3 linked regions of the Homo sapiens genome follow. The protein of the gene in region 3 binds, or shares a complex with, the protein of the main gene of each other region. Each region holds a gene or a part of one and is shown on either strand. Other genes may lie near its edges. The genes, in order: PRPF6, PPIH and LSM6.

What was found.
Region 1: LSM6 (region 3) and PRPF6 share a complex: the UniProt entries of both Homo sapiens proteins name them as parts of the U4/U6-U5 tri-snRNP complex.
Region 2: LSM6 (region 3) and PPIH share a complex: the UniProt entries of both Homo sapiens proteins name them as parts of the U4/U6-U5 tri-snRNP complex.

The regions. Positions count from the first base shown.
Region 1 is NC_000020.11:63,987,343-63,998,311, forward strand, and holds part of PRPF6 (pre-mRNA-processing factor 6), read left to right. Parts: intron 1-6,064; coding exon 6,065-6,143; intron 6,144-7,573; coding exon 7,574-7,750; intron 7,751-7,984; coding exon 7,985-8,140; intron 8,141-10,969. UniProt on the Homo sapiens protein: Involved in pre-mRNA splicing as component of the U4/U6-U5 tri-snRNP complex, one of the building blocks of the spliceosome.
Region 2 is NC_000001.11:42,659,355-42,670,323, reverse strand, and holds part of PPIH (peptidyl-prolyl cis-trans isomerase H), read right to left. Parts: coding exon of another isoform or gene 10,954-10,969; exon of another isoform or gene 10,803-10,953; coding exon 10,758-10,802; exon of another isoform or gene 10,698-10,757; intron 9,463-10,697; coding exon 9,420-9,462; intron 5,462-9,419; coding exon 5,369-5,461; intron 4,345-5,368; coding exon 4,257-4,344; intron 3,778-4,256; coding exon 3,737-3,777; intron 2,974-3,736; coding exon 2,905-2,973; 3' UTR 2,884-2,904; intron 2,278-2,883; exon of another isoform or gene 2,173-2,277; intron 1-2,172. UniProt on the Homo sapiens protein: PPIase that catalyzes the cis-trans isomerization of proline imidic peptide bonds in oligopeptides and may therefore assist protein folding. Participates in pre-mRNA splicing.
Region 3 is NC_000004.12:146,183,393-146,193,679, reverse strand, and holds the end of LSM6 (U6 snRNA-associated Sm-like protein LSm6), read right to left. Parts: intron 6,407-10,287; coding exon 6,293-6,406; intron 4,059-6,292; coding exon 4,024-4,058; 3' UTR 2,145-4,023; downstream 1-2,144. UniProt on the Homo sapiens protein: Plays a role in pre-mRNA splicing as component of the U4/U6-U5 tri-snRNP complex that is involved in spliceosome assembly, and as component of the precatalytic spliceosome (spliceosome B complex).

The sequences.
Region 1 (10,969 bases), on a different chromosome or scaffold from region 3:
CTAAAAATCCAAAGATTAGTTGGGTGTGGTGGCTCAGGCCTATAATTTCAGCTACTCAGGAGGTGGAGGTTACAGTGAGCTGAGATTGTGCCACTGCACTCCAGCCTGGGCAACACAATGAGACTGTGTCGCAAAGAAAAAAAAAAGCCACATATGGTAGGCCCACAGCTCGTATCATACTGAATGGGGAAAAACTGGAACGCAACAAGGATGCCCACTTTCACCACTGTGATTCAACATTGTACTGGAAGTCCTAGCTAGAGCAGTCGGACCAGAGAAATAAATAAAAGGGCATCCAGATTGGAAAAGAAGAAGTTAAATTATCCTTGTTTGCAGATGATATGATCTTATATTTAGAAAACCCTAAAGACTCTACCAAAACACTATTGGAACTGACAAATTGATTAAAGTTGCAGGCTATGCCCCCAGGTGTGGTGGCTCACACCTGTAATCCCAGCACTTTGGGAGGCTGAGGGTGGGTGGATCACCTGAGGTCAGGAGTTTGAGACCAGCCTGGCCAACAAAGAGAAACCCTGTCACTATTAAGAATACAAAAATGGCCGGGCACGGTGGCTCACGCCTGTAATCCCAGCACTTTGGGAGGCCGAGGCAGGTGGATGACTGGAGGTCAGGAGTTCGAGACCAGCCTGACCAACGTGGTGAAACCCTGTCTCTACTAAAAAAATTACAAAAGTTGCCAGGCGCTGGGACTCACGCCTGTAATCCCAGCACCTTGGGAGAGTGAGGTGGGTGGATCACTTGAGGTCAGGAGTTTGAGACCAGGCTGACCAACATAGTGAAACCCTGTCTCTACTAAAAATACAAAAATTAGCTGGGTGTAGTGGCACACGTCTGTAATCCCAGCTACTCAGGAGGCTGAGGCAAGAGAATTGCTTGAACCTAGGAGGCAAATGTTGTAGTGAGCTGAGATTGCACCACTGCACTCCAGCCTGAGTGACGGGGCAAGACTCTGTCTCAAAAAAAAAAAAAACCAAAAAACAAAAATTAGCCGGGTGTGGGGGTGCACGCCTGTAGTCCCAGCTAGTTGGGAGGCTGAGGCAGGAGAATCGCTTGAACCCAGGAGGTCGAGGTTGCAGTGAGCTGAGATTGCACCACTGCACTCCAGCCTGGGTAACAGAGTGAGACTCCATCTTAAAATAAAAGAAAATATCCATACTACCCAAAGTAATTTACAGATTCAATGCAATCCGTATCAAAATACTGGGGACATTATTAACAGATAGTGAAAAAATAGCCAGGTGCAGTGGCTCATGCCTGTAATCCCAACACTTTGGGAGGCTGAGGCAGGTGGATCACTTGAGGTCAGCAGTTCGAGACCAGCCTGGCTAAACCCCATCTCTACTAAAAATACAAAAATTAGTTGGGCATGGTGACAGGTGCCTGTAATCCCAGCTACTTGGGAGGCTGAGGCAGGAGAATCACTTGAACCTGGAAGGCAGAGGTTGCAGTCAGCTGAGATCGTGCCATTGCACTCCGGCCTGGGCAACAGAGTGAGACTCCGTCTCAAAAAAAAAAAAAGAAAAAGAAAAAATAATTCTAAAATGTACATGGAGCCAAAAAAGACCCAGAATAGGCAAAGCTATCCTGAGCAAAAGGAACAAAACTGGGGGAACACTTGACTTCAAATTATACTACAGAGCTGTAGTAACAAAAACAGCATAGTACTGGCAGAAAAACAGACACATAGACCAATGGAACAGAATGGACCCAGAAACAAATAGGTACCTCTACAGTGAACTCATTCTTGACAAATGTACCAGGAATATTTATTGGGGAAAAGACAATCTCTTCAATAAACGGTGCTGGGAAAACTGGATATCTATATACAGAAGAATGAAACTAGACCCCTCTCTGTCACCACATACAAAAATCAAATTAAAAGACTTTAAGACCTCAAGCTGAAACTACTAGAAGAAAACATTGGAGAAACTCTACAGGACATTGGACTAGGCAAAGATTTCTTGAGTAATACCCCACAAGCACAGGCAACGAACGGAAGCCAGGTGTGGTGGCTCGCTCCCGTGAGCCAAGAGTGCGCTACTGCACTCCAGCCTGGGCCACAGAGACTGTCTCAAAAAGGAAAAAAATAAAAAGTTCTCATTATAGAATATTAGGAAAATAAGAGTAAGTATGGGTAAAAGCATAACATTTATTCATAAGTCTAGAAAGTAACAGTTAACATTTTGGCTCATTTCCTCTTTCTGTTGCTTTTTTTTATCTTGGCTCACTGCAACCTCTGCCTCCCGGGTTCAAGCAATTCTCCTGCCTCAGCCTCCCAAGTAGCTGGGATTACAGGTGCCTGCCACCACGCCTGGCTAGTTTTTGTATTTTAGTAGAGACGGGGTTTCACCATGTTGGCCAGGATGGTCTCAAACTCCTGGCCTTGTGCTCCATCCACCTCGGCCTCCCAAAGTGCTGGGATTACAGACGTGAGCCACTGCGCCCAGCTCTGTTGCTTTTTATACATGTAATCATAACTTCCTGTGATGTATGTAGAATGTTTTATTTTTTGAAGATAATTTTAGAATAGTAAAATATAGTTCTTCTGGAATTTTATTTATTTTTTATTTTTTTGAGTCTCCCAGGCTCAAGTGATTCTTCTGCCTCAGCCTCCCAAGTAGCCGGGATTATAGGCACGCGCCACCACACCTGGCTAATTTTTGTGTTTTTAGTAGAGACAGGGTTTTACCATGTTGGCCAGGCCGGTCTTGAACTCCTGACCCCAAGTGATCCACCCGCCTCAGCCTCCCAAAGTGTTGGAATTACAGGTATGAGCCACCGTGCCCAGTCTTGCCACACACTTTAAACAACCAGATCTTACGTGATGTAAACTTGCTGCCTCGAGGACAGCACCAGGCCATCAGGGGTCTGCCCTCAAGACTCAAGTGGCCTCCCACCAGGCCCCACCTCAAACATTGGGAATTATAATTCAGCATGAGATTTCATGGGGACACAGATGTAAACCATATCCTTTGGCCTCCCAGAGTGCTGGGATTACAGACATAAGTCAATGTGCCTGGCCTGGACATCTTTTTAGAAGCTCGTTATTAAATCATTGTGCATAAATTTTATACCTATAGTAATTAAACGTGAATGGCATTGCATTTCACTTTTTTTTTTTTTTGGATACAGGATCTTACTCTGTCACCCAGGGTGGAGCGCGGTGGCTTGATTATAGCTCCCTGTAACCTTCAATTCCTGGCTCAAGCGATTCTCCTGCTTCAGCCTCCCAGGTAGCTGGGATTACAAGCACGTGCTACCACACCCAGCTAATTTTTCTTTTTTCTTTTTTTTTTTTTGAGATGGAGTCTCACTCTATTGCCCAGGCTGGAGTGCAATGGCGCAACCTCGGCTTACTGCAACCTCCGCCTCCAGGGTTCAAGTGATTCTCCTGCCTCAGCCTCCCAAGTGGCTGGGATTACAGGCATGCACCGCCACGCCCGGCTGATTTTTGTAGAGATGGGTATTTTTAGTAGAGACGGGGTTTCACCAATGTTAGCCAGGCTGGTCTTGAACTCCTGCCCTTGTGATCTGCCTGCCTTGGCCTCCCAAGGTGCTGGGATTACAGGCTTGAGCCACCACGCCAGGCTCACACCCAGCTAATTTTTGTCTATGTTGCCCAGGCTGGTCTTGAACTCCTGGCCTCAAGTGATCCACCTGCCTCCCCTAACCTTGGCCTCCCAAAGTGCTAGGATTACAGGCATGAGTTACTACACTCAGCCCTACATTTTAAAAATTGATTGGAACCTCCAGGGTTAATGCATTTTAAAAAACATCAGGCTGGGTGCAGTGGCTTACATGTGTAATCCTAGTACCTTGGGAGGCCAAGGCAGGAGGACCACTTGAGTCTAGGAGTTCGAGACCAGCCTGGGCAACATGGTGAAACCCTGTCTCTACAAAAACAAAATTAAAATTAGCCAGTTGCACATGCCCGTAGTTCCAGCTACATTCCCAAGGCTGAGGCAGGAGCATCGCTTGAGCCTAGGAATTAGAGGCTACAGTGAGCTATGCTTATGCCACTGTGCTCCAGCCTGGGCAACAGACCAAGGCCGTGTCTCTAAAACAAAAACAAAACAAAAAACAGCAGGTGACACGGACCCATGAAGAAAGCCATTAAATTAAATGTTTTTAAAAAGTAGTGTACTTGGCCGAGCACGGTGGCTCACACCTATAATCCCAGCACTTTGGGAGGCCGAGGCGGGCAGATCATGAGGTCAGGAGATCGAGACCATCCTGGCCAACATGGTGAAACCCCGTCTCTACTAACAATACAAAAATTAGCTGGGTGTGGTGGTGCATGCCTGTAATCCCAGCTACTCAGGAGGCTGAGGCACGAGAATCACTTAAACCCAGGAGGCGGAGGTTGCAGTGAGCTGAGATCGCACCACTGCATTCCAGCCTGGTGACAGAGTGAGACTGTCTCAAAGAAAAAAAAAAAAGTAGTGTACTTATTAAAACTTTTTATTCTGAAAACTGTCGTAATACAAACAAGTAGGAAGAACAGTACTGTGAATACCATATCCTCACATGTAGTCTCAACACCGAAGTGCAATTACATGGGTTATGTTCTGGCACATAGAGCTGTGCAGCTGAGCTGAGTTGGTTAGAGGTGAACTATTTACTTGGAAGAGAAGGAAGCAAGGAAGGAAAGGTGGGATGAGTTCAGTAGAGTGTTTGGAGTGTTTGGTGGTAACTAGGATAGTTACTGTTTTTCCTTGTAGGTGTTTTTTTGTTTTGTTTTGTTTTGTTTTGTTTTGCGACAAGGTCTCGCTCTGTCGCCCAGGCTAGATTGGCTCACTGCAACCTCCACTTCCTGGATTCAGATGATTCTCCTGCCTCAGTCTCCCAGGTAGCTGGGGATTACAGGTGCCCACCACCATGCCCAGCTAATTTTTATTTTTATTTTTATTTTTTTGAGACGAAGTTTCACTCTTGTCACCCAGGCTGGAGTGCAATGGCATGATCTTGGCTCCCTGCAACTTCCACCTCCCAGGTTCAAGCAATTCTCCTACCTCAGCCTCCTGAGTAGCTGGGATAACAGGCATGCGCCACCACGCCTGGCTAATTTTCATATTTTTAGTATAGATGGGGTTTTACCACATTGGCCAGGCTTGAACTCCTGACCTCAGGTGATCTGCCCACCTCGGCCTCCCAAAGCGTTGGGATTACAGGTGTAAGCCACCACGCCTGGCCTTCTTAGGTGTTTATGGGATGGTCCTACCTTTGGGATTTTGTGAATTTTCAAGCAGTAAATATACACATGTCCAAATGGAGGTATTTAGATCAAAGTAAGATCTTTTTTTTTTATTTTAATGAATTTCTACATGTTTTTATTTGGTGGATAATTGAATTAGTAGACTTACGAATGTATTTATATTTATTTATTTAGAGGCAGAGTCTCTCTGTGTTGCCCAGGCTGGAGTGCAGTGGTGCGATCTTGGCTCACTGCACCCTCTGCCTCCTGGGTTCAAATGATTCTGCCTCAGCCTCCCAAGTAGCTGTGATTACAGGTGTGTGCTACCATGCCCAGCTAAGAATGTATTCATAGTTACCTTAAAATATATTTGATTTGGGCTGGGTGCGGTGGCTCACACCTGTAATCCCAGCACTTTGGGAGGCCAAGGTGGGTAGATCACAAGGTCAGGAGTTCGAGAACAGCCTGGCCAGGATGGTGAAACCCCGTCTCTACTAAAAACACAAAAATTAGCTGGGAGTGGTGGCGAGCACCTGTAATCCCAGCTACTTGGGAGGCTGAGGCAGGAAAATCACTTAAACCCAGGAGGTGGAGGTTGCAGTGAGCTGAGATTGCGCCACTGCACTTTAGCCTGGGTGACAGAGCAAGACTCCATCTCAAAAAAAAAAATGTGTGTGTGTGTGTGTGTGTGTGTGTGTGTGTGTGTATATGTATATATATATATATATATTTGATTTAGCTACTAAGAGTATGGAATTGTTCTTTTTGGTGATTTAATTGAGATGGATAATAAATTTGCTTCAGAACAGACATGCAGTGTTTCTGATGTGTGCATGTTTTATTTCCTAGGGAGCAAAGGGAGAAAGAAGAAATAGAGAAATATCGTATGGAACGCCCCAAAATCCAACAGCAGTTCTCAGACCTCAAGGTGAGCCGATGAAGCGGTGAATGGTGTGCGGTTTCTAACGCTCTCACCCTAACCCGCAGAGACTCAGACTGCTCTTACGTGGAATTTATGAGACTTTACGTTTTTAATTTAGGGGGTCATTGCTTAGAAGAAGAAAGTGTTTGCTTCAGTATGTTTAATTATATGTGTGTAAAAAAAAACCCTTCCCCTACTGTAAAAGGTAGGACAAATGAACTTATTTTCTTTGTAATTTTGACTCCATTTATACCTAAGATTTTCTTTTTTCTTTTTTCTTTTTTTTTTTGGAGGCAGTCTGGCTCTGTTGCCCTGGCTGGAGTGCAGTGGCGTGGTCTCAGCTCACTGCAACCTTCACCTCCTAGGTTCAAGCAATTCTTGTGCCTCAGCCTCCTAAGTAGCTGGGATTACAGGTGCCTGCCACCATACCCAGCTAATTTTTGTATTTTTAGTAAAGACAGGATTTCGCCATGTGTACCAGGCTGGTCTCAAACTCCTGAACTCTAGTGATCTGCCCACCTCAGCCTCCCAAAGGGCTGGGATTACAGGCGTGAGCCACCACGTCTGGCCCCATTTATACGTAAGATTTTCTAAACTGTGTCCCCTGGGCTTTGAGAGAATAATTTACATTTTAGTGAAGTTGAACAGATCCAATAAATTGATTTTTCTTTTCTTTTTCTTTTTTTTTTTTTTTTGAGACGGAGTTTGGCTCTTGTTGCCCAGGCTGGAGTGCAATGACGCGATCTCAGCTCACCGCAACCTCCGCCTCCCAGGTTCAAACGATTCTCCTGCCTCAGCCTCCCTAGTAGCTGGGATTACAGGCATGTGCCACCATGCCCGGCTAATTTTGTATTTTTAGTAGAGATGGGGTTTCTCCATGTTGGTCAGGCTGGTCTCGAACTCCCGACCTCAGGTGATCTGCCCGCTTTGGCCTCCCAAAGTGCTGGGATTAACAGGCATGAGCCACCGTGCCCGGCCTAAATTGATTTTTCTAAGTGAAGTAGAAAACTATTTTTGGGGCTGGGTACAGTGGCTCACATCTGTAATCTCAGCACTTTGGGAGGCTGAGGTGGGAGGATCACTTGAGCCCAGGAGTTTGAGACCAGCCTTGGGGAGAACCTGTCTTTACAAAAAATAAAAACTTAGCCAGGCATGGTGGCCCACGCTTGTGGTCCCAGCAACTTGAGAAGCTGAAGTGGGAGGATCACTTGAGCCTGGGAGGTTGAGGCTGCAGTGAGCTGTGATTGTGCCACTGAATCCAGCCTGGGCAACAGAATGAGACCCATCTCAAAACAAAAGTAAAAAACAGTTGCTGCATCCAAATCCCTTCTAAAGCTTGGTGATCTGGAGGCTAGGGGTGAGAGAGGGCATGGTCCTACCTGGGCACATGAAATTCTGTCAGAGAATTAATGTTTTTGGGGGCTGGATATTTCCAGAGGAAGTTGGCAGAAGTCACAGAAGAAGAGTGGCTGAGCATCCCCGAGGTTGGCGATGCCAGAAATAAACGTCAGCGGAACCCACGCTATGAGAAGCTGACCCCTGTTCCTGACAGTTTCTTTGCCAAACATTTACAGACCGGAGAGAACCATACCTCAGTGGATCCCCGACAAACTGTGAGCTTCCAAAAAAGGGCACATGTGGCCCATTTAGTCCTGTTAGATCAGTGGCAGGAATGGTGGGTGGTGTTGGATTCAATGCTTCTGCAGGTCATGGCTATGCTGTGGCCGAGTCTGTCTGCACAGCTGTGCATATGTCAGGCCACTGGGGAAGTATTTCAGAGAGTAAATTTCTTGGGCATGCAGTGCAAACCGTTGTTTTATTCTTGCCTTTCCTCTCTTCCCCTCCAGCAATTTGGAGGTCTTAACACACCCTATCCAGGTGGACTAAACACTCCATACCCAGGTGGAATGACGCCAGGACTGATGACACCTGGCACAGGTGAGCTGGACATGAGGAAGATTGGCCAAGCGAGGAACACTCTGATGGACATGAGGCTGAGCCAGGTGAGTTTGTCACACAGCATTTTCCTGTGGACAGGTTTAGACAGTTTAATTTTGTTTTGTTTTCTTTTTCTCCTTCTTCTTCTTCTCCTTTTTCTTCTCCTCCTTCTCCTCCTCCTCCTTCTTCTCCTTCTCCTTTTTTTTTTTTTGGCTTGATTTTTGCCTGAATAATTCCGCAGATTTTTAAAATTTTGACCCAGAGTCTTGCTGTGTCACTCAGAGGCTGGAGTGCAATGGTGTGATCTTGGCTCACTGCAACCTCCACCTCCTGGGTTCAAGTGATTCTCCTACCTCAGCCTCCTGAGTAGCTGGGATTACAGGTGCCCACCACCACACCCGGCTAATTTTTGTATTTTTTGTAGAGACGGGGTTTTACCATGTTGGCCAGGCTGGTCTTGAACTCCTGACCTCAGGTGATCTGTCTGCCTTGGCCTCCCAAAATGCGGGGATTACAGGTGTGAGCCACTGCACTTGGCCTTTTTTTAAAATATAAAATAATAATTTTTTAAAAAGTGTGTTTTTTTCCTGCCTCTCAGTAAATTGTCTTGTGGCCCTGCATGGAACGTGTACTTTGATCTGGAGACTAGGTGCTCTAGACACCAGTGAAGTACAGAACTCTTTCTGATATGCATATCAGATACCACGAAGGAACATACTACTTTTGGCCTGGCCAACATGGTGAAACCCCGTCTCTACTAAAAATACAGAAATTGGCCAGGTGTGGTGGCGGGCGCCTGTAATCCCAGCTACTTGGGAGGCTAAGGCAGGAGAATTGCTTGAACCCGGGCGTTGGAGGTTGCAGTGAGCCGAGATTGCACCAGTGCACTCCGGCCTGGGCAACAGAGTGAGACTGTCTCAAAATAAAAAACAAAAACAAAAACAAAAAGTGGCACAATCATGGCTGGCTACATACAGCCTTGACCTCCCTGGGCTAAGGCGATCCTTCCACCTCAGCCTGCCAAGTAGCTGAGATTACAGGCATGTGCCACCATACCCAACTAATTTTTGTATTTTTTGTTGAGATGGGGTGTCACTAGGTTGCCCAACCTGGGCTGGAGCTCCTGGGCACAAGTGATCTGTCCGCGCTGGCCTCACAAAGTGCTGGGATTACAGGTGTGAACTACCATGCCCAGCCTGAAATTTGTTTACATAGAAATTGTAAAACTTTTTGGGCCAGGCACTCATGCCTGTAATCCTAGCACTTTGAGAGACCAAGGTAGGAGGATTGCTTGAGGTCAGGAGTTCAAGACCAGCCTGGGCAACATGGTGATGGTGAGACTCTGTCTCTACAAAAACTAAAAGAAATAGCTGGGCCTGGTGGTGCCTGTAGTCCCAGCTGTTCGAGAGGCTGAGGTGGAAGGATTGCTTGAGCTAGGGAGTTTGAGGCTGCCATGAGCTATGATCGCGCCTCTGCACACCAGCCTGGGTTACGGAGTGAGACTGTCTCAATAAATAAATAAAACTGTCACAGTAATTTTTTTGTGGTAAAATATATGTAACACAGAATTTACCATTTTAATCATTCTTGACTGTACATACCTTCACTGACATAATTATGTTCATGTTGTTATACAACCTCATCACCATTCATCTCCAGAACTGTTTTCATCTTCCCAAATTGAAACTCCGTACCTGTTAAACATTGAGTCCCCGTGCGCTTTCTCCCCAGCCCCTGGCATCCACCGTTCTCTCTGTTTCTATAAATGTCACTACTCTCTGGATCTTATATGACTGGAATCATACAGTATTTACCTTACTGTGACAGGCTTATTTCAATTAGCTCATGGTGCAGCATGCGTCAGCATGTTCTTTTTTTTTTTTTTTTTTTTGAGACAGAGTCTCTCTCTGTCACCCAGGCTGGAGTTCAATGGCATGGTCTTGGCTCACTGCAGCCTCCGCCTCTCGGGTTCAAATGATTCTCCCACCTGAGCCTCCCAAGTAGCTGGGACTACAGGTGTGCACCACCAAGCCCAGCTAATTTTTTTTTTTTTTTTTGAGACGGAGCCTGGCACCGTCACCCGAGCTGGAGTGCAGTGGTGTGATCTCGGCTCACTGCAACCTCCACCTCCTGGGTTCAGGTGATTCTCCTGCCTCAGCCTCCCGAGTAGCTGGAACTATAGGCGTGTGCCACCATGTCTGGCTAATTTTTGTATTTTTAGTAGAGACGGGGTTTCATCATGTTGGCCAGGATGGTCTTGATCTCCTGACCTCGTGATCCACTCGCCTCAGCCTCCCAGGATGCTGGGATTAGAAGTGTGATTTTTTTGTATTTTTAGTTAGAGATGGGATTTCACCATGTTGGCCAGGCTGGTCTCGAACTCCTGACCTCCAGTGATCCACGTGGCTCGGCCTCCCAAAGTGCTGGGATTACAGGCATGAGCCCCGGCGCCCCGGCCAGCATGTTCTCAGTTTAAGGCAGGATGAGACTTGACTCTTTGGTGTGTGTGGACCGCATTCGCTCATCTATGTAGACCGCATTCGCTGACCTGTTTATTCGCTGACGGACACTTGGACCACTTTCACCTTTTGACTATTGTGAATAATGCTGCTGTGAATACGGGTGTACAGATATTTGTCAGAGACCCTGCTTTCTATTCTTTCTTTTTTAATAAAAATTTTATTTATTTTTTTTTGAGACGGGGTCTTGCTCTGTCACCCAGGCTGGAGGGCAGTGGCGTGATCTCGGCTCACTGCAGCCTCTGCTTCCCAGGTTCATGTGATTCTCCTGCCTCAGCCTCCTGAGTAGCTGGGACTACAGGCATGTGCCACCACGCCTGGCTAATTTTTGTATTTTTAGTAGACACGGGGTTTCACCATCCTGGCCAGGCTGGT
Region 2 (10,969 bases), on a different chromosome or scaffold from region 3:
AGTTACAGCAAAGAAATGAGTAGGAGACGGAGGGAATGGCCAGCAGCCATTGAAGAGGGAGAGCAGGCTGGGCCCAAGGGGGACCCAGTATTGGCAGAAAGGAAAGCTCAGGGTGTCAAGTGGGCCTGAGAAGGGATCATCTGGCTGAACAAGAGAGGTCCACATGTAGCTCTCAGCACACACTTGTGCATTCCAGCCTCAGCATTTGCTCACACGAGTTCCCCGCCTAAAATGCCTGACATTCTCCCTCTCTACTTAACTCATGTAATAAATTTTTACTGAATGCCTGTAAGTGCCAGCTTTCTGAACAGAGTTGGTCACAGATAAAGGTGTGTTGTAGAGTCATTAAAATGGTCAGGTATTTGACTGGATCTCCATTTGGAAAAAAAGACAAGAAAAAGTCCTATCTTAACACTATACAGAAAAATTAATTATAGATGATTTTATAAATGTACAAATAAGACTTTAAAAATACTAGAAAAATGATCTTAGCTCCACCATATAAAAAGAAATACTAGAAAAAACACAGAAAACATTGTGATCTGAGGTAGTAAAGACCTTAAATGAGACAAAACTGAAAAGCAGTGAAAGACTGATAATTTGGACTTCATCAAAATTTAGAACTTCTCTTTAACAAAGAATATCACCAAACTTAAGCAACACAATACTAATTTTTTTCTTAAAATATATTCTGAAGAAAACAATTACAACATATAAAATTAAGAACTAATGCTCAGTTGGGGGCAGTGGCTCACGCCTGTAATCCTAGCACTTTAGGAGGCCAAGGTGGGCAGACCACTTGAGGTGGGGACCAGCCTGGCCAACATGATGAAACCCCATCTCTACCAAGAAATATAAAAATTAGCTGGGCGTGGTGGCATGCACCTGTAGTCCTAGCTACTTATAGCTATTGTATAAGGTAATCTTATACAATATTTTTAATACGTTTGTGCATGAAACAGATTTTTGACTATGATCCATCACATGAAGTCAGGTGTGGAATTTTCCACTTCTAATGTCATGTTAGTGCTCAAAAAGCTTCATATTTTGGAGCATTTGGGATTTCGGATTAGGGATGCTCAGCCTGCACTGCAGTTTCGGTTTTTCTTTTCCTTTTTTTTTTTTTTTTGATGTCATCCAGGCTGGAGTACAGTGGTGTGATTATAGCTCACTGCAGCCTCAAACTCCTGGGCTCAAGTAATCCTCCCACCTCAGCCTCCTGAGTAGCTGGGACTACAGGCATGCACCACCACACCTGGCTAATTTTTTTTTTTTTTGGAAAGACGGGATCTCACCAGGTTGCCCAGGCTGGTCTCGAACTCCTGAGCTCAAGCTATCTGCCCTCCTTGGCCTCCCAAAGTGCTGGGATTACAGGAGTGAGCCACCTCCTGCCGGGCTGTTTTCATTTTTTAATACAAGGTGGTTTTACATGAACTAAGAAGGAAAAGTTTTCAAGACATATTTTTTAGAACATGAAAAATATAGTATGATTTCATTTGGGAAAAAGAAAACCTCCCAAAATTAGATGGGCAAGGCAAAGGCCCTGATGGACATACATCAAACTAATAAGGAAGTGACCTTTGGAAAGGGGAGTGGAATTGCAGGTGGGTATTGTCAAGAGGGGCTTTCACTTTATCTGTTTGGTGTGAAAGTTTTCACAATGAGAGTGTATTATGTTACTTGTGTAAACCAAATGAAATGAAATATGGGAACCTTGATTGGATCACCTTTTTTTAAGCTACAAAAGTTACTTTTGGGACAATTGGGGAGGTTTGAAAATGTACTATATATTAGATAATATTGTGGTTACGTAGGATGTTCTTATTTTTAGGAGTTCCTTGCTGAAATACTTAGGGGTAAAGTGTCAAGAAGTCTGCAACTTTCAAATGGGAAAGAGAAGAAGAAAGGGTAAAGGAAGGAAGATGGGAAGAAAGGAAGGAAAGGATGGAGGGAGGGAAGAGGAGCAGGAGGGAGGAGGAGAGGCAATGGAAATGGGTGAGGAGGCAAGAAGGGAAAGAAAAAAACAAATGTCAAGGCAAAGCAATAAAACAAGAATGTTAATCATTGGTGAATCTAAGTGAAGATATATTGGTGTTCAAGGTATTATCTTCTAACTTTTTTGCAGGTTTGAAAATAAAAAAAAAAGAAAAACAAAACATCACTACCCCTCACCTGGCTGGAAGTGATGGATTTCTCCCTTGTACTCTTCTCATACTTGGCAATGTCACTCATATTACTAGTGATCACCTCTGGGAATGTCTTACTTTCCATGAGCTCCTGAAAGGAGACATCTTTCAATTCTTTGTCCCCCTCTCTGCAGCTAGCATGCTGCCCAGCGCAGAGCAGGCAGTGGTAATTACGGGTAAGAAATGAGTCCATGTAGGCTGGAAGATGCAAGGCATTCACCTATGAGGCCAGCGAATATGAAGTCGAGGCCTGGAATTGCAGTATCAGTTCTGATGAGAGGCATGACAGGTGTGTCTCCTGGCTGCCTGGCCTGGTCCCAGCAGAGAGTTACTCAGGCCTGGAGCCAGGTCTTTCTAGGGGGACTACTGAATGGAACTGTAGTCTGAGAGTGCTGTTACAAACTGCCTGAGTAGTTTTCACATTGATACTTTGTACATTACAAAGTGATAGAAAAGTAAAGTGCTCCTACAACCCTTTCTCTTTTTATTTTTACAGTGACTCTGAGAGATAGGTATTACAGTATTTCCATTTGACAGATGAGGAAATGTGCTCAGAGAAGGAAAGTGACTACTCCAAGGCCATACACGGAGGAACTGGGCTCAATCTCATGTCTTCAAGACTAAAGTTCTTTCCACTAGACCATGCTGCCTTCTCTGAGGTCTGATTCCTAACCTAATAGGAGAAAGACACACTTACCTGATTCAGTCTTTGTCTGGACTACATCTCCCCACACTGCGAGATCACCACAGGTAGCTTGGGCTTATTGTTGGGGCCTGTGGGAACATTCTAGGAAAAAAAGCACAATGGAGATTCATCCACTCAGGCACTTCCTCGTTCCCTTATCAAACTTTTACTGATGCCTGCCAGCCCTGTGCTAAGGACTCAGCACTCAGAAACAGTCCATGTCCTGGCAGACAGGTAAAGCATATAATACCTATCAAAGAGAAAATGCAAAACACTTAGAAAATATCAAACTTATGATTATATAAGAAAAAGTTATAAGAGAGAATTGGATAAGGGTTAGATAGGCAACTAAATTGGGGCTTAAAGAGGTCAGGGAAGGATTCACAAAAGAGGGGTATTTGAACTGTGCCTAGAAGGATGAATGGGATTCCATCAGGAGGGAAGGAAAGAAGAGCATTCCGGCTAGAGGAAACTGTGTGAGCAAAGGCTCAGGGGCAGGAAAGAGCAAGCAGCAGGGACATGCATGGCAGATTTAGAGAAGAGCTAGTAGCCTGATGTGACTGGAACATGGAAGAGGCAATGGCAGAAGAAGGGGCCATGGAGAGGTAGACAGGGACTAATCATGAAGGACCTTGAACGCAATGCTGAGGAGTAGAATTTTATCAAGTAGGCAACAGGATCATCAGAGGCCAAACCTCAGTGTTGGCCAGACAGGCTAACTTAGGTGGTTCTCTTCCCTTTTCCTGGGGCAATGAAGACAGCCTAACAAACTGGAGCTCATTCCCCCTTCTCTAGCTCCTGCACGCTAGTCAGACAGTACCAGACCACAATGGCAGAGAAACAGAAAAATCAAAGCAGTACTTACCTCAATCTTTCTCATCACTAGAAGTCCATCGATGATTTTTCCTGTAGGAAGAGCATGAGCTGGACTTTATTCTTGTTTACATAGCATTTTCCAGCTTCCAAAGCCCATTCTTAGCTATTTTCTCATTAAACCCTCATACTAACTTTAGGAAATTAAGATGCGGTAGAGGTGAAATGACTTGCTCAAGGTCATAGGTAATAAGTAGAGTTAGGGCTCAAACTTATACCTGAGTGACTCCAAAGTCTCACCGTATCATGCTGCCTCTATGGCATTTCTTTGGTGCTAGCAACTGGGTTTTCTCCCTAAGTGGTTCCATACTATATCAAATGGTCCTTTTGTCCTTCCCTCTAGTTCTCTAGCCACACATGTTCCCCACCTCCCCACCATTTCTGTTTTCTCTATTACCACCTAAGCAGTTACACAGGTTGAGCTTTCTTGGTAAGAGTTTGAGAACTAACTCCTCTGGAGGTTCCATCCAGGGTGAATGGGGCCTGGACCATGAGACAGGAGTAGGACTTACCAAACACCACATGCTTCCCATCCAGCCAATCGCACTTAGAGCAGGTGATAAAGAACTGACAGCCATTTGTACTTGGACCACTGTTCGCCTGATGGAAACCAAATATACCTGCAGTAAGTTTCCCCGGCCATGTTAGCTGAAGGGCAAGATTTCCAAAAGAGCTTGTAACACTGATTCCTCTATGGTTTTTTTCAGTAAATCTAACTTAGCACCTATTATGAGCCAGGGCCTAAGCTAGGATCCAAGGATACAGAGATGAACAGGATATGGCTCACTGCAGCCTCAAACTCCTGGGCTCAAGCAATCCTCCCCACCTCAGCCTCCCTAGTAGATGGGACTACAGGTGTGTGTCACCACACCTGGCTAATTTTTTTTTTCTTTTTTAAGTAGAGACTAAGTCTCACTATGTTGCCCAGATTGTTCAAACTCCTGACCTCAACCTCAAGCAATCCTCTTGCTTCGGCCTCCCCAAAGTGCTGGGATTACAGGTGTGAGCCACCACACCCAGCTATGAATATGTCTTGAAAGCACAACTGTTTACATTCTGAGCAGTAGGGCTGAATGCCCAGACACAAATCCTGGTTCAGATTTTAGTTCCCCAGCCTGCTAGCCTGCTAGTGGGCCTTACCTACTGGTTTTCTTTTCTTTCTTTTCTTTGTTTTAAGATGGAGTTTCGCTCTTGTTGCCCAGGCTGGAGTGCAGTGGGGCAATCTCAGCTCACTGCAACTTCCCCGTCCTGGGTTCAAGCGATTCTCCTGCCTCAGCCTCCCGAGTAGATGGGATTACAGGCACCCACCACCACACCTGGCTAATTTTTTGTATTTTTAGTAGAGATGGGGTTTCACCATGTTGGCCAGGCTGGTCTCGAACTGCTGACCTCAGGTTATCCACCTGCCTCAGCCTCCCAAAGTGCTGGGATTACAGGCGTGAGCCAGCATACCTACTGGTTTTCTCAGTCAAACCAGACTAAGAAAGGAGGTGGTAAAGGTGAGTCCTGGGCCAAGCAAGAGAAGGAAAGCATTTGCTTCCATCCCAAGAGACAGCACTGGGCCTCAAGAGGGGCCCAGGAACCAGCTGGCTATAACCCAAAACCTTGATTGGACCTCACTTACCATGGAAAGCAGGCCTGGAGCTGAGTGTCTAAGTTTAAAATTTTCATCTGCAAATGGCCCCCGGTAAATACTGGCGACTCCAGTACCATCTCCCTGAGCAGAGAGAAGGGAAGTATTAGTGACTTGGAGTGTTGGGTCCCTGGAAACCGGAGGAAGAACACTGTCGCACCTAAAGCATGACATCTTTAAAGTCTACTCTTACTCTTGTTGGTCATCTTGGAAGCTGCACCTATTTGACCCCACCCTGCAATCAGATCAAGCCTTATATAAGGTACCTACAGCCCACAAAGACTGGCTGGAGCATTTTATAGACTGGATAAAAGAGGTCACAGCTGGGCCTCTAGAACGATCAATTAAGATGCAGACAAAGTAGGGAACAGCAACAAGGTGATCACATACTCAATCCTTGCCATTCCTGAAGACTCTCATGCCTTCAGTCACATAAAAGTACCCACTTAAGTGACTACCACCCCATTCCCCTAAACTATCTAAGAGGGTGGGTGAGCTCTTGGCAGTCTGTATGTACAACATGATACCACCCTCCTGGTCATAGTTGATTGATCTAGGGAAGGATGCCTAACTCACTCTGGGCCAACTAGAGTTCCTTCTCTGGGAATCTGGAGGTGGGATAGATGCTCTCTTTGAGGCTAAATTTGTAACATGTAAACCTGAAAGCTGGATGTGACTACCATTTGCAAGCTGGGCTAGAGAACAGAGAGAGAACACAACACAGATGTGTAGCGAGCACTAGAGAAACGGAGATAAAGAACTGCCTTGGTTCTCTATGGTTCTAGTTCCTAGTTCTATTTCTTCCTTTAGTTCCATGAAACACTCCCTTTATTATAAACTCCCAATTTCTGCTTAAACTAGCTTTATTTGCATTATCTCCTTGCTCTTCCAGCAACCTTGAGGAATAAGCATTATCATCTTCCCCATTTTTCATGTGAGGAAACTGAAGTCTGGGTAATAAAACAATTTGACCAAGGCCATATTTGCAGTGCCTTAAATAGAATCCCTGAGTTTTAAAGGCAATATTGAGGAGTGCCAAAAAGATCAAGCTCTCCTCGCCAGTTAGTAAAGAGAAAGAGTACATGGGAGAAAGGGAAAACACTGACCCAGTGAGGAATCAAGGGTCCCTTTTTGGAAAAGAACTACCATTAATATAAGCCAGAGAATAAAGAAAAACTGTCCAAATTCAAACCTTTGTTTGCCTAAATATTATAAAATAAAATCAAGTCTGTATATTAGAAAGACCTGGCCTGGTGTGGTGGCTCACACCTGTAATCCCATCACTTTGGGAGGCTGAGGCGGGTGGATCACCTGAAGTCAGGAGTTTGAGACCAGCCTGGCCAACATGGTGAGACCCCATCTCTACTAAAAATACAAAAATTAGCCACGTGTGGTGGTGGTACCTGTAATCCCAGCTACTCGGGAGGCTGAGGCACGAGAATCGCTTGAACCCACCCGGGAGGTGGAGGTTGCAGTAAGCCAAGATCGCACCACTGCACCCCAGCCTGGGCGACAGAGCGAGACTCCATCTAAAAAAAAAAAAGATCTGAATTTGAGTTCCAGATCTATCACTTAGAGCTGGGAAAGTCACTTCCAATCTGTGAGCCTCAATTTCCTCATCTATCAAGTGAGGATGAAATTACCTACTCTTTACAGTTATCATGAAGATTCAATTAGATAGTGTCTGTAAAAAGCACTGTACAAACAATATAGTACTATATAAATAATCAAATAAGCTAATATGTCATTAACTAACTACACATACATATTAATACAGAAGGAAGAGAGAAAACAAGTTCATCTCCAATTTCCCAGTGAACCTAAGGGACACATCAGTTACCGTGCCATTCTCCGTAATCACGTTATCTATAGCTCTCCAGAAACAATAGGGAAAATTACAAAATTAATAATTTGGAGCAAACAATAGAAAGCAACTTATCTTCAACTATAGTGAATTGATCAAATAACTTGTCTATTCATAATGAAATATTAGGTGGCTATTAGAAAGCATGTTTTAGAAGACATAACGACAAGGGAAAATATGGACAATTATGAAGTACAAAAAAAGTAAAACATATAGATTATTTTAAGTCTGTTAAAAATTATATAAACACACATATACATACTAAGGTAAGACTGACAACTGTAAACCAAAATGCCAATAGTATATTGTGAGGTGAGAATGAGGGTAATTCATTTGGTGATTTATTTTCTTCTTTGCACTTTTCTTTTGCAACCAAAATAATAAATACTATTAAAACCAAAAATAAATGAACAAACAAATATTCTTGGTCAAACTTTGGAAGGTCTCAAATTCTGATTTTTCTGACTCTTGCTCATTCCATTTTGCCTTCCCCAAGGAAGGTTCTAAGCAAGCTTTTTTTTTTTCCCTTTAGACAAGGTCTTGCTCTGTCGCCCAGGCTGGAGTGCAGTGGTATGAACATGGCTCACTGCAGCCTTGAATTGACCTCCTGGGCTCAAGGGATCCTCCTACCTCAGCCTACCAAGTACCTGGGACTACAGGCGCACACCACCAAAAATAAAAAAATAAAAAATAACTTTTCTTATTTTTGTAGAGACAGGGTCTTACTATGTTGCCAAGCTGTTCTCAAACTCCTGGGATCAAGCAATCCTCCCAGCATCCCAAGGTACTGGGATTACAGATGTGAGCCCTACCAGCAATTGCTTTTAACTCGGCCTTCAGACTGAGCAACTATTGTCTAACCCCAGAGTTATCGACAAGTGATCAGATGTGCCTGGGGCAAAGACTAGTAAAAAGCTATTCCTCTCCTTGTAAGGCAACAGGGAAGCCTAGGGGAAAAAAAAGGAAAGAAGGCAGAGGATAGCTTCTCAGCCCTTCTTACCAGCTAACAAACCCTACTACCATTATCTGTTTCCCGGGGCTGCAAACAAATGCCCACAGGAGCAGGCAACGTAAATAAGGGAAACAGTTGTGGAGACTGGTGAAATGGCAAAGATATGCCATGTCCAAAGGGACCAGTTCCTTGATTCCAACCAATTGTCACTGTCACTGCCACTGTGAGAAATGCAGGCCCAGCATACTTCCACTTTCCATTTTTTAAAGAGAAAAAAAAACTAGGATTTTTTTGTGCCATTTCACAGTTATACAACACCATGCAGATGAATCAAAACATAGGTAAAAACGTAATTCGGCCTAAAACCTGCCACTCTGCAACCCTGTATTGCATAGGAAAGGAAAGAGGTCTTAAAAACTCATGAGATTCAGACTAAATAAACACATAAAAGAGAACACATGTCTCCCAGATCCAAGAAAACAGCAACACAACTAACCAAATGATATTAATAAGAGTAAAGAAAGACCATTCAGAAGTGGGGGGTAAGGACAAAAGCAGGTTTAAGAAAGAAAAAATGTAGTTTATCCCACACCCTCCAAGGTTGGGGTGGGGAGGGAGGCTTCATATGGGGGACAAAAACAGTCTACTTACAAGAAAGCTATGGTTAGCAAAAAAGAACTATTTCACTGGGCTCTCTCAGTGAATAGAGCAAAATTCCTCCAGAACTATCTACCTCTCTTGCTCTGATTCCTTGCCCACAAATCAACTTCTTATGAAAAACTCAGCTTTCCAGGCACTGTGACACCCAGAAGTAAAAGAGAAAATGAAACAAGCATTTAGCCCACTAGAAGGAGACTTACCTCCATTCAGAAAAAAACAAAAACCACAGCTGATTTCTGACTAAGTTTCATATGACTAATTAGTGTGAACCTATCATAGATCATCTATAGGTATTCTTAAAAAGTCCAATTTCTGGCTCAAAAAGGCTGAGATTTGGACCATGGAATTTAATGCCTCAATCAAAGTGCTAAAGTCGGTTATCTACAGTCAGTCGTACCCAGCCACTTTCAAGAACTTCCCCATCACCATTCTCTCCAACACCCACATCAAACCTGGCTATTGTTCTCAAGCCTGAAGACTGGGTCTCTGTAGTAAAAACAGCAATTGCAACAATAACAACAAAAACTAAAACTACGGGTCTTTGATAGGAAAGGAATAGTACTTACATTAACAAAATCTCCACCCTGAATCATGAAATCCTTTATGACCCTGAAACAGAGAGCAAAGAATACTGAGAAGATTTTATGGTTTAGAAAAACATAGATGTTGTTATTATTGTATTAGATTAACGTTGATTTCAAAATACACTATCACTTTGGCTATTATAAAATCATTACTCTTAGCTGGGTGCGGTAGCTCACGCCTGTAATCCCAGCAGTTTGGGAGGCCGAGGCAGGCAGATCACATGAGGCCAGGAGTTTGAGACCAGCCTGGCCAACATGGCAAAACCCCGTCTCTACTAAAAATACAAAAATTAGCCGAGCGTGGTGGCACATGCCTGTAGTCCTGGCTACTCGGGAGGCTGAGGCAGAAGAATTGCTTGAACCCAGGAGGCGGAGGTTGCAGTGAGCCAAGATCATGCCACTGCACTTTAGCCTGGGCGACAGAGTGGGACTCTGTCTCAAAAAAACAAAACAAAACAAAAAAAACCTGAAGATTATTCTTTTCCTGAATGATTAAGCTGAAAGGATAATTAACCATAAAAAAGGATTTTCGTTATAAATTAGGGCATGTTAGAGTTGATCAAGTGCATGATCTGGTACCTGAACAGTAATAAGAAGAAGGGGCTGAAAGCTTACTTGCCAAAGCAAAAGGCAGAGCAAGGGTTTGATGTAAATTTGGGGGAAAGAACTACAGAGAATTTATGTGAAATGTACTGCTAAACATGTAAGGGCTTAACAACTGTTAGCTATTACCCCTAGGGAGGGTCCTTAACCTTTCTTATCCTCAGTTTCCTCCTCTGTAGAATGCAGATCACCCATACCACTTCACAGGAGTCTTACTGGGGATTAGAGACCCAAAGCTCTAAAGCTGTGATATAATTATGTGCTAACATTGTTACTAACCACAGTGAGGCCATGAGAAAGATTCTATATTGAAATGAGACTAAGTGTTGACATACTCCACTCCCCAGGAAATATGATTATCCTTGGACAATCATATATGATCATTTTAGGAATTAGTTATAAATATCAACCAGCAGGATATATTATATGCACTTTAGGATTACAAGTGTACTTTTTAAAAAATCTGCATTCGCACAAACAAGTGCATGAAAAAGACAAGATATTGTAAAGATGAGTAGTTTCTGTTTTAAAGACCTAAGAAGTGGGGGAGTGTAAGTAGAGTTAGAACATTTAATAAATCTTCAGTTGTTGAGTCCACAAAAACATTTCTTCTCAAGAAATGTAAGAATTACCCTCTGGTTTTATTTTCCTCTAAAGAGCCTAATCCCCCAGGAAATATTTCTGAAAGACTCCAGGATGGCTTGCCAAGAGCCTTACCTGTGGAAGGTGCTTCCTTTGTATCCTATTGGAACCCCATCTTTCCTATAACCGAAAAGAAAGAGACTTGGAGTGACAGCAGGTAGCACAAGGCCTTTCCAGTTTACCATGCACTGGAGCCAAAAGGACTCTCCTAAAGATGGTTGACAGACATAAAGAAGGCAAATAAACTAGGGACAGACCCTTGGGGCATTACCTTCTATCACTGTCAC
Region 3 (10,287 bases):
TAAACACTGAATAGTGACTTGAAATACCGTATGCACATGATGGTAATAAAATTGCCTAAGATTGTTACGTAAACTTTTCATAAACTAACCTCTCCTTTAATCCAAATTATTGGTATATTGCCAAACTCACCAACATCCATCCCATTATAAAACTTGGAATAAATTAAGCCCATGTGAATTTGGACATTTGTGTAACCTAGGCATTGAAAACTAGCCTATCCCAAGTGTTTCAGTGTTTTATATTTCATGAAATTCCTGGAATATGCCTCTGCCTTTCTATCTGCTATAACTCCCAAATTACTATGAAGAAAATCCTTCAGTGCTGCAGATGAGTCAAAATGGGTCTTCAAATAAAAAAAAATCCAACATGACTGTTCAGTTAAACCACACAAAAGCTGGCTTTTCTAGGAGAAGGAAAAAAACAAAGATGGGAGGCTGAACTACCTGGGCCTGTGGGTAAACAGGGCATAGTTACGTTCAGATTTCAGAATTATCCACTCCTGAGTTTATTTGGAATTTCAAGATACGAACATACAGTTGAGATGCTCAAATCCATCTAAAATGTTCAGGTTTTTAAAAGAATTCTTACAATTTTGGCCCAATTTTTTAAAAAAAGGATGGAGGGTACCACTTTCCCCCATAAATACCCAAACCTACAAACTCAGTATGGAAGGTGCAATGTCATATTTCCTTTTTTATCTACCCCCCTAAGGTATAGCACAGTGCCTGCCTACAGCTGTCATCCAATAAATGCCAAACTGATTTCTGCCACCACATTCTGAAATCCCCACTCCCTGGCCACCTCCCGCATCTTTTAAAGGAGGGACTAACAGGTATCAGAGAGGGCTCTCTCCACTGTCCTGTCGTACATGACACATACCACTCTCACCGTCCACTCTTGCATTTTCACCCCCACTCTGGCTAATTGGACTTCAACAGTGAATCTAAGTTAGTCGGTCAACAACAGAGACACAGCTGTACTGCTGTGTACTGGTGGTACAACAGACAGCAGCGACTGGAATTAAGATAGTTGCTGGATATTCAGACCCCAGAGGTCAGGACTAACCCTGCCACTCTTAGGTGGCATCTACCTCCACAATGGTCAGGGGCAAGCTTAGCGAAGACAGGCAGAGACACTCCACTGAGCACACGGCCTCCTGAAACCAGGTCGGTGGGGAGAAAAACTGAAGGTTGTCTTCCTTTCACCAACAATTTCTTTTTGTGGAGAAAAAAAAATTATAGTTAATGCAGTTGGGCTGTGGGGAACAGCAAGGCCACAGCATGGGCTGGGATTTACCTCTGAATCTAAGAGCTAGCCAGTACTCTGGAGGATCATCTGCTCGGAGGACAAAGGTCAGTGCAATCATAGGCGTGTCTGCCCCCAGTAAGGGAACATTCTGGATCTTTGGCCTGGAATGCTGTACTGAGGTCACCCAAGAGTCAGTGATTATCAAAGACAATTTTACCCCCTAGAGGTTGCTTCTATTGTTACAGATTATTATAGCCTCCGGGGCGGTAAGCCTTACACAGCAAGTCCAATGCTGCTGCACTTTTAGACCTTAAGGAAATCCCGTAAGCATTTGTTACTATTATTAATTAAGCATAATTAAGCGCTCCTAGCATGCATTCCATATTGCCTTGAGCAGAAAGCTTCAGATGTAAACCATCTTTCAATAACATTCCCTTCCTGAATGCTGAGATGAGAACATGAAAATCATACCACATGTCTGCCATCTGTATTTGTACTTGTCAACAGCTCTGTTTTGGGATAAACAGTTTTGAAATAAGAATCAATTCGACTTGTTGGAAGATTAGCCAAGGAATAGCTCAAAGACCAAAACAGAAAATGAAGTCAGATAGTCTGAAAATCGAGCACAATTTTGTTTCTCGCTAAACATTCTGTTTTGTCACAGCCCAAGAGAAAGAGTGTGGCAGACAGGGTTTGGGGGCACACAGACAGGGAAAATGTATGTTCTCAAGTAAAAAATTCTTCAACCTGGAACAAATGTCTTCGCTACAATGCAACTAGAAATCATTCACTGACCTCTAGGAGACTACAGTTAAGAACAAAGCAATTTAAGCATTTACACTTTGTTTCATGGTTCTACTATGTGAAGGTATACACAGGGGACAACTTGAGCGGGTTCAAGTGCATAATACAGTCCTTTATTACCATAAAAATGGCAGCACTTCCCAAAGTTGATCTTGATTAAAAGTAGTTCCATGGTTGAAAACAGTACTCCACTGTAGAGCTATTAAACTAGAGAGATGGCAAGGGGAAAATAAAGACTTATATATCAAAGGCGAGGTCAGGGAAGAAGTTAGAAAAAACAGGACGCTACAGATTAGTGGGAGACTACAATGGAATTGCTTTTAGAGGTGGCTGATATAAGTGAATGAAGGGACACAATAACCTGCAGCCCCACATATTCTACAAAACAAATGAGAACATGTATGCTCCACTTGGAGAGCCATCCATTTTCTCCTTAAAAGAACTCATTTATAAAAGAGCAAATTGGTGATTTGTACTTACATACTGGACCTTTTCCAAGCCCCTGTCAAGAAGTGATAAATTATTGAAGCATAGCATAAAGTGTTTTATTTTCAGTGTGCACACGGTAAAACCCTGTGAAATGCTTCTGTTCACCTTTCCCAAGTTATTAATTAAAAAATAATTGTTTCCAATTACTCTCTGATCTTTAAAATAAACCAAGACAAAACACTACATACACCTCTCCAGAATCAGCACTGCCCCTTCCCTCTCTCCTTCTCGATCCTGCCCCCCATCCTTCAACCAAGCAGTTGTTTCGAATCACACCATCGGCTCCTGAAATAGGAATGCTATTTAGATTGGGAAGGGAGGGAAGAGGAAGTCCAATACAACATTCACACAATTGTCTGGTATTCATTCAACCACAGTGCCCAGATATATTTGTTGTTCCTAGAGACAGCGTAAAACTGTTTGGAGAATAAAGCAGGGTTGTGGAAAGCTCATTAATAAATTGTGAAAATCCTCTCAGCAGGAGTCACATAACCAGAGGAGCTGCCTTGTGCCAAGCAACATAAAGCCTGGTGCTCTGCTCCTGGACAATGTCAAAGGCAAATACAGCTGATTTTTGAGAAAGGCCTCCCTACAGCCACTTGCTAGACCAGAGTTAGGAAAAATTCTTTCCCAATCTCAGCTCGGCAATTAGAACCTGAATTATGTTTACAAACTCTAGGCTTTGCTTTAATCTGACTGTGAGAGATGTACAGGAATGGCCCCTCCCCTACTGTGTTCATAAACTGAGAGAATAACGTTGATGCCAATGCTCCTGAAAGGGAGCAGGGAAACCTAAAAAGTCTAATTGCATAAGGAGATGCAGGGGGACCACTGACAGGAGGGCTTTCTCCTCACTGAAATCTTGTTCATCTTTAGGATTTCTCCAGCACCTCAGTTCGAATTCCCACTCCTTATGTGCAAGTGGCACTCTTGGCTTTCCAATTCTGTTTTTTATTTAGGTGACTCAATCAGTGGCTGAACTTCTGATCCTGTGGCCCCTTTTTGTAGCTTCAGACTGAAACTGGATGCCTTTGTAGAACATATTCACGCAAGGATTCTGTATGAACAGAAAAGGATGCAATAAAGGAGGATTCCTCCAAAATGTTTTAATTATATGTCCATACAATATATAAAATATATGCATCATTTTAGCTGGATAAGAAAAGCAAGTCAAATGAAATGACACTTCTCGAAACTTAAGTTAAATAATCTTGTAGGAAGAGGTATATTTTGTCTTTTTTTAATTATTTTAGCATTCTGTACACTGACAACGAGGTAAAAGAAAATGACTGAAACTTACAAGTGAAAGAACATTTCACAATTAAATCCACAATTGTATACATTTATCTTACTCACATGTCAGTGAAAAATCACCAACTATTATAAAAAGAGGACAAATTGTATCACAAAAGAAGCAAAAATTAGAAAAAATTCATAAAAAAATATATCCAACTATGAAAAGCGTTGCTCTCTTGGTGTCTTCACATCCGTCTCTTCTGTGTACTGATGTACAACACTGAAAAGAAAAAAATACATAAATTGAAATTTAAAAAACCCTGCTTGTAAGTATACATAGTAGCAAGTTTAAAAGCCAACAGATTTTGGTCTGATACATCTGACATTTAAAAGGAATTCTCGTATCATTCAATTAACTCTAGAAGTACTGTAAGACTAGTTTTATGAATCTACACCCAGGTTTGATGTCTTACAAAACTGTCCTAATTTCATCCATGTGTCTCACTGACTCTTTAAAGTGTGACCAGGAAGATAAAATAAAATATATGTGAAAGTCCCTGGTATCTAAGAATGCTTTATAGTTAGAAGTATAAGAATTATGCTTTTCAGGGCTGAACACGGTGGCTCACGCCTGCAATCTTAGCACTTTGGGAGGCTGAAGCGGGTGGATCACTTGAGCTCAGAAGTTTGAGACCAGCCTGGGCAACATGGTGAAACCCCGTTTCTACCAAAAATACAAAAAATTAACCAGGCATGGTGGTATATGCACTTGTAGTCCCAGCGACTTAGAACGCTGAGGTGGGAGGACTGCTTGAGCTTGGGAGGCAGAGGCTGCAGTGAGCTGAGATTGCACAACTACACTCCAGCCTGGGCCACAGAGCGAGACTTCATCTCAGGAAAAAAAAAAAAAAAAAAAGATGCTTTTCAGAAAGTAAATCAGTAAATCTAACCAGGCTAGATCTCAAATTAAGAATAAACAACATATTTTCATCTGTCTCCCCAATACAAACTCTAAACTTGCTGTTTACCTTCTTAAATGCAACAGGATAAACAAGAGCTAAGGAGTTTATTTTTTATTTTTATTTTTTAATGATACCAAAGTCCTTATTCTGAGTTCCCGTTAAAAGTCTCATACTTTGGTGTTACCTAATGTTCTGCTTAGTGGTCTTCTCATGACTACCAACATGAACTCGTAGGATGTGTGGTCCGTAGGAATGAAACAAAATGAAATGCTTGGGTCACTTTGGCCAAACTAGAGGTGGTTCTCCCTTCCACCTTCCATGCCTACTCGGCTTCTGAGAGGTCTGCTCAAAGCGAACAGTAAGGTGTCTTCATCAAAGAACATAGCACAGATGAATCAAATAAGTCAAGATCCTCTTTAAGAGCCAATGATGTGAACTTGGGAGTCTAAAGATGAGTGTCACTGATTACATCATGGGAAATGTGACATGAAGGGAAGCATCAGAATGCCAGTACAGCCGCCCCCCAACCCTGCCCCCCAAGTCCTAGGGGTAGTGTGCACGTTAAAGGATCTACCCTATCAACACGCACAGAACCCAACCTGCCAGTGACTGCTGCCATTAGCTGTCTTGAGGTGAGACAAGATCATAACATTTCTTAGGAAAAAGAGGAGGTCAAATAAGGATATGAAAAATAGGATAAATAATTCTATAAATAGAAAGGACTAGAAAGCCAGGAAATAATGTATGTAAAAATATGATATGAAGAAATAAGGTCCTGTAAGCATAGGGGACAGACTCTTATTATAAAAGTCAGGAAGTTTAGTTTATAGCAAAGAGATCCAACTATTTAGGGGGTTGAAGACATCCAGAATTAAAGAAATCAACAAAAAATCTGAACTCAAGAATCCCAGAGTTTCTGGGAGATGGAACCAAAAAGTGGGGTAATTCTCATAATTCTGATATCTTTCCCTCCCCACCAAAAATACAAATATGACTTTATTATAATTTTCATTTTTAAACTAGGTACTTAAAAATAACTATAAAAATCATAGCAATTTATTAGTTGTTAAAAACTGAGTAACTTTTTCTATTTTGCCATTTTTGCCAAACTGAAGGATGCAAATCTGCATAGAAAGCATCTGAATGTTTAATAGAGAAGGGACAAATAGGACGAACTGCCAAATTATGCAAATCAAAGACAGCAGGGAAACGGTGCCCATTCTTACATCTCCAACTTCCAGGCTACAAGAAGCAGGAATATGTGTTGGGGAGATATACTACACTATATTCGAGAAAGCAGGGTTCCAGGTAAGGAGAACAATGTCCCTCAGTTCCTCATCACTAAAGGAAGGGAAGGAGAGAATTTTGGTTTCAAAATTCCATGAAGCATCTACAAAATAACTGGTCAAACTGAAGATCTGACATATAAGCATTTTAAAATAATCAAGCCTAAAAGTGGACTTTTAAATTATCTAGAAACCTCTTTGGTGATCTGGATTATAAATAGAAAGGCTTATTTTGAATGCTGTACTGTAGGGCGAAGAAATGTTACCATTGTTTCCTCGGATAAATGCATCCCCATACTTATTCTTCAGTTGTCCATTTACATATTCTTCTGTCTGCTCCAGGGCTATATTCATGTAGCCATCCAGGCAAGCCAGGACCCCTGCAGACATATTTAGTCAAAAAGAAGATACACAAGGCAAATAAGAGTTGAAAATTACAGGGTATACCTTAGAGCAGACAATCTCTTTATTCATTAGTTCTTAGATGCTTAATATAAAAATTCACACCATAAATGAAACTCAACAGCTTAAGCACAAAACAACTCTATGCCAATCTGAATGAAGTCTAGGAAGGCAGTCACGCACCCACTACTACCCGGTAAAACAACAAACTGTCACTTCCCTCATGGTACGTATGACCACACAGAAACTTTTAAAGCATTCAAAAAAGTAAGAGAATAAGACTATTCCGGCAAAAATACCATTCTTTGAAAGCTAAGCACAAGGTGGGCAATTATGCATAAACAAATGATCCTTGGTTCCAGTGGCATTTCCTACTTTAGCCACTAAGTGAAATACGGGTCTGGCAGATTTATTTCATTCTTTTACAACATCTATTGCAGCAGATGAATGTACTCCAGGGTTAAAAGGAAGTCTCCACAATCTGTTAAAATAATAGAAGAGGAGACAGCAGGTGCTCCCGAAAGAACATCTTAAAGCTGTGACTCACAGTGAAGAGCAGCTTGAGAATATAGGGCAACATATTGCATTATAACACATCTTGTTCTGTTTTGTTACAGCTATAATATTTTCCAATCAAAACTAATAGAGAAAATGGCCAAAAACATTCGAGGGAGCTTTCAAGGAAACAGTTTGAGTCAATCTTTAATTGTGTTAAGATGGTATAAATTTTGTAAAATTTGACCTGATGATCTTTTTCAAAAGATGAAAATCTGTAAGCCTCTAATTCTGTCTCTAATTTAAAGTGGTATTTCCTAGAAAAAAAAATTTAAGTAAAAACAAATACTAGATTCAATTCAGTCGAGTCTATAGTTTCTCATTTGATGTCTTAACTTCATTAATATGCTCCTCACTCTCTGCCTCTGCCCCCATTATCCTCTAAACAAAAAAGTTTCCTTTCAAAATTGTGTAATGACAGCAAAAGACATTAATCTACCAGAATTCTGCTAAAAGCGGTAAACTCTCAAAGAACGAGAATGGACTGTGAATAATAAAATTATTTCCTAGCAAAAGAAAGCTTAAGCTACAACTTTAGCTCGTTTCCTGCTGTACTATTTTACATACAAACTGCAATTATAAATGAGCAAGAAAAATCTGAGGCACAATATGCAAACCTGTTTGAAAACCAATGAAAAGAATTTCAAAATGAAATGTCCAGGCTGGGCAAAGTGGCTCATGCCTGTAATCCCAGTACTTTGGGAGGTAGAAGCTGGCAGATCACTTGAGGTCAGGAGTTCAAGATCAGCCTGGCTAACATGGCGAAACCCCGTCTCTACTAAAAATACAAAAATTAGCCAGGCATGGTGGCAGGTGCCTGTAATCCCAGCTACTTGGGAGGCTGAGGCAGGAGAATCGTCTGAACTTGGGAGGCGGAGGTTGCAGTGAGCCAAGACTGAGCCACTGCACTCCAGCCTGGGCGAAAGAGTGAGACTCGGTCTCAAAAAAGAAAAAAGAAAAAAAAAAAAGAGTTCACTTCTAATTAAAATATCTATTCTCACAGCAAAGGCAAAAACAAACAAACAAACAAACAAGCAACAACAACAACAAAAAAACTGCCCAGGGGGTTAGAAATACAACCCTTTCCTTCCATGAGATAAACTACTATACAAAACCAAAAACAAGACATTTTCTCAAAGAGAAACTGCTACAGAGAGTTGCTGGAGTTTTTCTTTTTTTTTTTTTTTTGGTATGTTGTTGTTTTGCTTTGGGGTTTTTTGGGGTTTTGTAAACCACAAAATAAGCACGTTCCTTTAGTAAGGCTATCTAATAGTATAAAACATTTTGCTTTAATAGTATAAAGGCCATTCATAAGAGGAAAAAAAATTATGGTTACTATCCATGTGAAAGACTCCTGAATCTCACTAGTAAACAAAGAAAATATATGTAGAATGAGATATTACTTGTTGCCAATTAGATTGGAAAAGATGAAAAAAAGCTAATACAAGAGTTGGTGAGAACATGAAGGATAAACCCAAGTTCCCTGATGCAGGGCCATGGAATACTCTCTGACTTGTAAATCCTAGCCCAGGGAATTGATTCTAAAGAGATGTTTGGTCAACTTCACAATATATGTCAAAGTAGAAGAGTTGTTTATAGTGGCAAAAAACTGGTCAACACCTAAATGTCCATTAATAGGAAATTGGTTAACAGTAAAAGCAAAACCATGGTACAGCCACACAAGAGATTCCTATGCAGCCATTAAACCCTCTATATTATTACAAAACTAAATGTACTGTTTCAACGTTTAAAAAAAAAATCAGGTTGCATGTAGTTGACTCCATTTATGTCAAATTATGCTAATATAGAGGTCAAAATTGGTAAACTGTCTCTGGATAGTAGCATTGGGGATCCTTGGCTTTCTTCTATATACTTTTCTGTATTATTTCCTTTTACATTTCTAAAATTAAAACAAAACTAAAACATGTATTGCCTTTATAAATAGAAAAATTTTCCCTAAAGAGTACAGAGAAAAAAGGTCAGGCTGGTTCATCTCTTCAATAAAGTGGGTACTGAGAAGACATTGAACACAATGTCCTCACTTTAATCAACTGTCAAACAGATTAAAACCCCTAGAAGTCTATTACTTCCTATGGGCCCATCATCAAAAGTTCGCAGGTGAGAGGCAGTACACGGAGACATTATACTACCTCAGTATTCCGTATGAATCCATTAATTTTACTATAAAAATAAAATTAAACTGGAGATACGTTATTAATGTCAAGAAGCTAAAGGAGTACATAATCACCAGAGTGGTTTCTTAACAAGGCTTATGAGCCGAGCCTGAACTTGAGTCCTAGCTCCTCCTCTACTAGGTGGGGATAATCAATAGAGATTTCAAAGGAAAAAGCTCAAGAGATTACTATGACTATTAATTATTCAGAAAAGAGACCAAAAAAAGGCCACAAAAACCTGTGCTATGGTTTGAATGTGTCCCCTCCAAAATTCAGGTGTTTGGCAATAGGAGAGTATTAAGAGGTGGGGGCCTTTAAGAAGCAAGCAGACCATGGGGACTTGCCCATTAATGGGATGAAGGCCTGCATTAAAAAAAAGTCTTCACGCAGTGTGCTGGTTTGCCCTCTGCCTTCTGCCACGTGAGGACTCAGCATTCCTCCTCTCTGGAGGACGTAGCCCTCACCAGACAACTGAACCTGCTGGCACCTTGATCTTGGATTTCCTAGCCACCAGAACTGTGAGAAAATAAACTTCTGTTTTTGAAAATTACCCAGTCTAGAGGCGGAGCTTGCAGTGAGCCGAGATCGCGCCGCTGCACTCCAGCCTGGGTGACAGAGCGAGACTCCGTCTCAAAAAAAAAAAAAAAAAAAAGAAAATTACCCAGTACAGTGCTCAGGTGACGGGTGCACCAAAATCTCAGAAACCACCACTAAAGAACGTATCTATGTAACCAAAAAAACCACCTGTACCCCCAAAAACTACTGAAATAAATAATAAAAAAAATACAAAAAATGAAAATAAAAATGACCCAGTCTGTGGTATTCTGTTATAGCAACCCAAGAGACCACGTCCCTCTGCTAATGAATCAGTTATAGTTACACCTGCCAAATATTTCAGGTAACTTAACATACCTTAGCTTGGAAGATAAGAAATTCAGTAACTTTAAAAAACGGAATTTAAAACCATTCTTCCTATAAAGTTAATTTCAAAAGCACTGCAGCCTCTTAAAAATAATATTCTCTCCAAGAACAGAAAGGCATTTTTTTTTTTGAGACAGAGTCTCACCCTGTTGCCACACACATTATACGTTATATGAGTGGGACATTCAGGTTGTAAAATGATACTCAAC